2 linked regions of the Homo sapiens genome follow. The protein of the gene in region 2 purifies or fractionates together with the protein of the main gene of each other region. This does not show direct contact. Each region holds a gene or a part of one and is shown on either strand. Other genes may lie near its edges. The genes, in order: BBS4 and BBS12.

Region 1 (3,822 bases), on a different chromosome or scaffold from region 2:
CTTCTTGCCAAAGAAACACATTCCAATGTTATTCCAGAGTGGAGGACTTTCTGGAACAGCACAAGCCACAACTCTGTATTTGGTGAGGGCAACATCAAAGTCCCCGTGGGTCTGCATCATGCTGCCTGCTGCCAAGATGGCCTGAAAACATGGCACAGAGAAAGTCATTCAGTCATTCCCAAAAGGCTGTAGCAGTGGGGCAGCTTTCCTGAGTCTATACTCAGCAGGCCCATCAGCATAGATGGGACTGGAAAATTTCTTCCAGGGACATAAATATATCCAACCTATTGGGACAAATGTTCCTGAGGAATGTCCTTGCACTCTACACTGTGGCTCTCTGGCACAGCACAAAAAAAAAAAAAAAAAAAAAAAAAAAAAAAGATAAAATGTTACTTGCTTTACCCATCTGTTTCCTACTTCTAGCCAGGAAAGTCAGTATTTCAGAATGAATACCAGAGCCCTTTAAGTAAAAACTTCCTTTAATCTGTTCTCTGCAGCCCCTATTTGGTATACCAAGTGTTCTAGATACCTGAAATACACCTGTACGTGGCTACTTAAGGTAAATTTCTTTCTACCGTAGAACAGAGGGCGAGTCAGCTTTAGGCTTCATCAGCCCAGCCCTTTCATTTCTCTAAGGAAAGGTATCAAGGTGGGAGCTGACAGTCTAATGTTACTTCCTAAATCAGAATTCAGTTTGTATCCTTTAATAAACAGCTTGTCTTGCTGCATCTCCTCAATGATGTTCATCCATTTGATGCTATTCCTTCTCATTCCCAAAGTCACATCTAGAAAAAAAGTTGTAGTATCAAATCATTAGGACTCTAGAAGTCATTTCAACATAATTATTGTTTCTTTTTAGAGACAGGGTCTCTGTCACCCAGGCTGGAGTATAGTGGTGCCATCATAGCCCACTGTAGACTCAAACTCCTGGGCTCAAGTGATCTTCCCTCTTCCACCTTCCGAGTGGCTAGGACTACAGGTGTGTGCCACCATGCCTGGATAATTTTTTTTGTAGAAATGGGGGTCTCACTATGTGGCCCAGCCTGGTCTTGAACTCCTGGCCTCAAGTGATCCTCCTGCCTCAGCATTCCAAAGTGCTGGGATTACAGGCATAAGCCACCATGCCCAGCAGATTTATTTTTTTTATTTTTTATTTTTTTTTTTTTTGAGACAGAGTCTCGCTCTGTCACCCAGGCTGGAGTGCAGTGGCGCGTGATCTCAGCTCACTGCAAGCTCTGCCTCCCGGGTTCACGCCATTCTCCTGCCTCAGCCTCCCGAGGAGCTGGGACTACAGGCGCCCGCCACCACGCCCGGCTAATTTTTTTGTATTTTTAGTAGAGACGGGGTTTCACTGTGTTAGCCAGGATGGTCTCGATCTCCTGACCTCGTGATCTGCCCACCTCAGCCTCCCAAAGTGCTGGGATTACAGGCGTGAGCCACCGCGCCGGGCCGCAGATTTATTTTTGACAATAGTTGTGGAGGCATTGCTAATTTCCTAAGTAACACATAAGCTTTACTAGCACTATGATCTGCCTTCTGCAGGGGTTACACGTCTATTATAACAAATGTGCACTTTTAGAAGATAAGTAGAGCATACTTGACACTATTTTCAAATAAGAAGAGCCACCTTTTATTTATATTTTTTCTATTTCTCAGGTATCCAAATTTAAGAAGCTATTCCTTTGCTTTCCAGGGTCAGATCACCTCTAGGAGCAGTGGGACCGTCTATATGAAGGCCAGAGCCTTCACAGCCTGTAATACCTTGTAGTTGGTAGGGTCATAAGTCAGTGCATTGCCAAGATGTTCAAATGCCTTCTGGTAAATGCCGAGCTTGGAAAAAAAGCAAACAAGACAATTTACATCAGCAAGGAGACGGCAGTTAAAAGAGTCTGGCCAGACCAGGCGTGGTGGCTAATGCCTATAATCCCAGCACTTTGGGAGGCTAAGGTGGGTGGATCACCTGAGGTCAGGAGTTCGAGACCAGCCTGACCAACATGGAGAAACCCCATCTCTACTAAAAATACAAAATTACCCAGGCATGGTGGCACATGCCTGTAATCCCAGCTACTTGGGAGGCTGAGGCAGGAGAATCGCTTGAACCCAGGAGGCAGAGGTTGCAGTGAGCCGAGATCACGCCATTGCACTCTAGCCTAGGCAAAAAGAGTGAAACTCCGTCTCCAAAAAAAAAAAAAAAAAAACAGTCTGGCCAACCTCACCCAGAACAGAAATGCTCTGGCTTTTTTGAGTTCTCTTGACTTTAAAAAAAAAAAAAAAAAAAAAAAAAGCAGCTACAGTTACCAGATAATAAAGAAAGAAAACTAAAAATCCCCAGTCATGGTTTTCCTTCTATTTTTGTTAATTTGTCACCTGATAAGGTCAAAGTATCTATTTGATAAGAACCATCTCTGCCACACTAGTACTGTTCCACATTAATGCCTCTTTGCAGGAAATGAGCTGGGTATCCTCATCTCCCGTGGAGCCAACCTCCCAAGCCAAAGCCCAGGAAGACCCAGGGTTAAGCTCCTGATTCCTTTTAAAGAAAAATGAAATAGACATAAAGGCCACCACAGAGGCAGGGCTGGAGGCAGAATCAGCTGACCAAGGAACTTGGCAAATGTGTATATTGGGGAAGAGGGAAAAGCCCCTTGGATACCTGGGCCCTGGGTCCTCAGCCAGAGAATCAATGGAGCTAAAAGAATCCCATTCACATTCAGGAATGTTGAGGGGACAGAAAACTTCTTATTCTAGATAAAAGTATACTTTGCCTTCTCTCTTTCCAATAAGACTCTGGCTGGGAAGAAAGATCAAAAGAAATGGCTTTGCCCCAAAGCCCTAAGTGCTCACTTGTATCTGTTTCTCTCCTCACAACAAAATAACAGCCTCCAAGACCAGAGTTATTTCTCATATATGCTCTTTCCTGGATAGCATAAGAATTTTTTTTTTTTTCTGAGACAGGATCTGGCTCTGTCACCCAGGATGGAGTGCAGTGACTCAATCTCAGCTCACTGCAACCTCTGCCTTCCGAGTTCAAGCAATCTTCCCATCACAGCCTCCCAAGTAGCTGGGACTACAGAAGCATGCCACCATGCCTGGCTAATTTTTTTATTTTTTGTAGAGACAGGGTCTCACTATGTTACCCAGGCTGGTCTCCAACTCCTGAGCTCAAGTGATCCACCAGCCTCAGCCTCCCAAATTGCTGGGATTACAGGCATGAGACCACACCCAGCCTAGATAAGAATTATAATTGCACTAGGCTAAAATAGAATTGCTTCCAATTTAAATGCAGAAAATTAATTCCTTTAGCAAAGAGTATCGAATAGAGAGAGTGTAGTTCATGAACTTTATATGACCTTTAATAAAATAAATATCAGAATGCAGGAAAACCACCATACACACAAACCCAAAACCATTTCTAACATCAGTGCATGAATGAGTACAGAGTTTTCATTACCTGTAAGTAGAGTAATCCTAAAGTTGTAAGAAGCTCTGTATTTTCTGGTGAGAACCTGCAACATAGAGATGCTCAGAGGGAAACAAGATGTAGATGAGAAACACGAAGACACATGCACAGTAATATGCCCTCGTGCAATACTTGACAGACCCCACTGAGCCTCTTCCTCCCCGTGGAAATACCTGAAGGCAATTTGGGAATTGCCATCAAAAGTAGGTCATCTCAACCCTGGTGATAAGGAGAACTGCTCAGCAAGAAAAATGAGGCTTAGAATTCAGATTCCTTTCTTAGGGTAAAAGTCCTAAGAAAGAACCTATAGAATGTTTTGCATGACTGTCTTGGTCACACTGATAAAATTAAAGAACAATGCT
Region 2 (3,822 bases):
GGAGGAAGCAAGGAAGGATTCTTCCCTTGATCCTTCAGAAGGAGCATGGACCTGCCAGCATTTTGATTTTGGGCTTCTAGACTCCAGAACTGTGAAAGAATAAATAAGTATTGTTTTAAGCTACCCAGTTGTTTGTGGTAATTTGGTATGGCAGCCCTAGGAAGCTGATGCAGTGAGGATGTGGAGAAATCAAAACCCTCATACATTGTTGGTGGGAATGTTCAGCTGTTATGGAAAACAGACAGTTCATTCAAAAGTTAAAGATATTTGCTCCTCCTTTTCATGCCTGTGGCTGGATGTCCCACAGCACTATAGGAAATGTGAGTCAGGCCTTTTGCATTAAGCAACCAAGAACTACAGACTCCACCTTTTCACCCAAATCATGAATGACCAGTGAAAAGCAACTTATTTCAGAGGAAGAAGCAGCCCTTGAAATGTTAAGGCTTGGGCTTGAAAGTTGAAGAGCAGGAATTCTCTCTTTCAAAGACCCTAGAGCACAAACCTTTGTGTGGCCAAGTGGGATCAGCCCTCAAGGGCACATGCCAAGGACAGAGCAGCCCATGTAGACAGCTTCGGAGGGTATGGGGATGTGGGGAGTTAGGGGTAGCTCCTCATTAACTATTTGTTGGGTGAGTATAAGGGCGAAGCTCAGTGGCAGTCAGCCACCTCTGCAATGACAAGCTGTCTCTCCCCTACATGTTTAGCATATATTATTAGAACACGTCCCATGCCCCCGCTCCCTTTAAGGCCAAGTAGAGAAATCTGGCAATAAAAGGCAAATGTGAGCATGCTTTCTCTAAGATGCATCATAAATGGTTTTCTTTAAGTGAATGAAGACTTTGACAGAGAAATATCTTTGTAAGCAAACATTAAGAATGCTGGCTGGGTGTGGTGGCTCATGCCTGTAATCCCAGCACTTTGGGAGGCCTAGGCAGGAGGATCGCTTGAGCCTGGTACTTCAAGACCAGACTGGGCAGCATGGCGAAATCCCATCTCTACAAAAAAAATAGAAAAATTAGCCGGGTATGGTGGCATGCACTTGTAGTCCCAGTTACTTGGGAGGCTGAGGTGGGAGAATCACCTAAGCCCAGGAGGTCGAGGCTGCAGTGAGCCATGCCACTGCACTCCAGTCTAGGTGACAGAGCGAGACCCTGTCTAAAAAATAAAAATAAAAAGAATGCTAATCATTTCTGAGTTCGCTGTGACTTGTAATACTGGGGATCTCCCTTGTAACACTGGAACTGAAAGACTGACGAAAGCTATGTCAAGCATTCATTATTCTGAAGAGGAGGAGAAATGCCACATACCTTTCCCATTGAACCTGTGGTGGAATAAATCCATGGTTGTGTCTTGCTTTGAACAGACTTTTGTTCTGAGCACTGCTCACGATGGATTTTTATGCTTCATTTTCATATCTCTCTGCACAATTAGATTGGGAGTTCCTTGAGGGCAGAGTATGTATAATCTTTGTCTTTGTAATCCCGGCAATTAACACAGTGCCTCCTGGTACATTGTAGGTGCTTAAGAAATACTCACTAAATGCATGAATGAATGAAACGAAGGAATGACTAGGAATGTTTGTAGTGCTATAATATATAATGGGATATACTCCAGTCTGGTACTTGTCTAGTCAGTCCTCTACGGTGTTATCAGAGTGGTAATATATCCAAAACATTACAATTATTATTGTTATTAAAACAAGAACTCATAAAACATGGTGCCAGACATTGTTCTAAGTACTATATTCACTCCTTATAATGACTATGAAATAGCTTCTATTATTATCCCTGTTTTTTAGATGTGGAAATTAAGGGATAAAGTACATAACTTGCTGAGGGCTATATAGCTAGTAAAGCGGTAGGATTAAGTTCACACCCAGACTTCTAGGTTTAGAGTACATGTTTTCAAACACTACATCAAGTTGTTTCTTGATCTTTTTTATTAAAAACATTTTAACGGTTCCCATTACAGGATCAAGTTTAAGTTACTTGCTATGGCACATAATGCCCTTCGTAAACCAGCTCATTTCCTCTTCTAGAGCTTCATCTGCTACTGTTCTCCACTACATGTTTTTTTTTGTTGTTGTTGTTTTTTCTGAGACTGAGTCTTGCTCTGTTGCCCAGGCTGGAGTGCAGTGGCGCCATCTTGGCTCACTGCAACCTCCGCCTCCTGGGTTCAAGCGATTCTTCTGCCTCAGCCCCCAAAGTAGCTGGGACTACAGGTGCGTGCCACCACACCCGGCCAATTTTTGTATTTTTAGTAGAGACGAGGTTTCGCCATATTGGCCAGGCTGGTCTCGAACCCCTGACCTCGTGATCCGCCCGCCTCGGCCTCCCAAAGTGCTGGGATTATAGGCATGAGCCACTGCGCCCAGCCGCTCCACTACATTTTTTATATTCTCATAAAACCAGGCTACTTCTATTTCCCTGAATACACTATGTTTTTTTCACATATATGTACATTTACTACTACCTCCTTCAACTTGTAACTCTTTCCAGTTATTTTTCAAGACTCATTCCAAGAATTGCTTTCTTCTGGAAACGTTGCCTACAGCCCTCATGCTTCATTTCCTCTGTTGGGTGGAGTGTTTCTCTTCCATTCCCCCATACCTTTATCATTAATAGAATAATAATACTGTATCATTGCACTGACCACTTTTCATGGAAATTATATGTACCTCAAAAGCAGGGAGCATATCTTGTTTTTATTTCTATATAGCATTTATAACTATGAATTATACTGAATAAAGTTACAAGTTTTTATTTTGTTTGCAGATCATGATACATGGTGATGGCTTGCAGAGTCGTAAACAAAAGAAGACACATGGGACTTCAACAACTTTCATCATTCGCGGAAACAGGAAGAACTTTCCTAGGCCCACTAAAATCATCCAAATTTATTATAGATGAAGAATGTCATGAAAGTGTATTAATCAGTTCAACAGTAAGGCTTCTTGAAAGTTTGGATTTAACCAGTGCAGTGGGACAACTTCTCAATGAAGCAGTTCAAGCACAAAACAACACATATAGAACTGGAATCAGTACTCTTTTGTTTCTTGTTGGTGCTTGGAGCAGTGCAGTTGAAGAATGTCTTCATCTTGGTGTCCCCATTTCCATAATAGTATCAGTAATGTCAGAAGGCTTAAACTTTTGTAGTGAAGAGGTAGTTTCTCTTCATGTACCTGTTCACAATATATTTGACTGTATGGACAGCACAAAAACATTTTCTCAACTTGAAACATTTAGTGTAAGTTTGTGTCCTTTTCTACAGGTCCCTTCAGATACTGATTTGATAGAGGAATTGCATGGTCTCAAAGATGTTGCCTCTCAAACACTGACCATTTCCAACCTTTCTGGGAGACCTCTTAAATCATATGAATTATTTAAACCTCAGACAAAGGTTGAAGCAGATAACAACACATCACGAACTCTGAAAAACAGCCTGCTTGCAGATACCTGCTGCAGACAGTCAATACTAATCCACAGTAGGCATTTTAATAGGACAGATAATACTGAAGGGGTAAGCAAACCAGATGGATTTCAAGAACATGTTACAGCTACTCACAAAACTTACAGATGTAATGATTTGGTAGAGTTGGCAGTAGGCTTGAGTCATGGAGATCACAGCAGCATGAAGTTAGTAGAAGAAGCAGTACAGCTGCAATATCAGAATGCTTGTGTGCAACAAGGCAACTGTACAAAACCATTTATGTTTGACATTTCAAGAATTTTCACTTGCTGTCTACCAGGCTTACCTGAAACTTCTTCTTGTGTTTGTCCAGGATATATCACTGTTGTGTCAGTATCTAATAATCCTGTGATC

Evidence for each region.
Region 1: the proteins of BBS12 (region 2) and BBS4 purify together in Homo sapiens (co-immunoprecipitation; one large-scale study listed by IntAct). This does not show direct contact.

The regions. Positions count from the first base shown.
Region 1 is NC_000015.10:72,727,624-72,731,445, reverse strand, and holds part of BBS4 (BBSome complex member BBS4), read right to left. Parts: intron 3,507-3,822; coding exon 3,452-3,506; intron 1,831-3,451; coding exon 1,762-1,830; intron 142-1,761; coding exon 1-141.
Region 2 is NC_000004.12:122,739,109-122,742,930, forward strand, and holds part of BBS12 (chaperonin-containing T-complex member BBS12), read left to right. Parts: intron 1-264; exon of another isoform or gene 265-1,611; intron 1,612-2,774; 5' UTR 2,775-2,784; coding exon 2,785-3,822. UniProt on the Homo sapiens protein: Component of the chaperonin-containing T-complex (TRiC), a molecular chaperone complex that assists the folding of proteins upon ATP hydrolysis.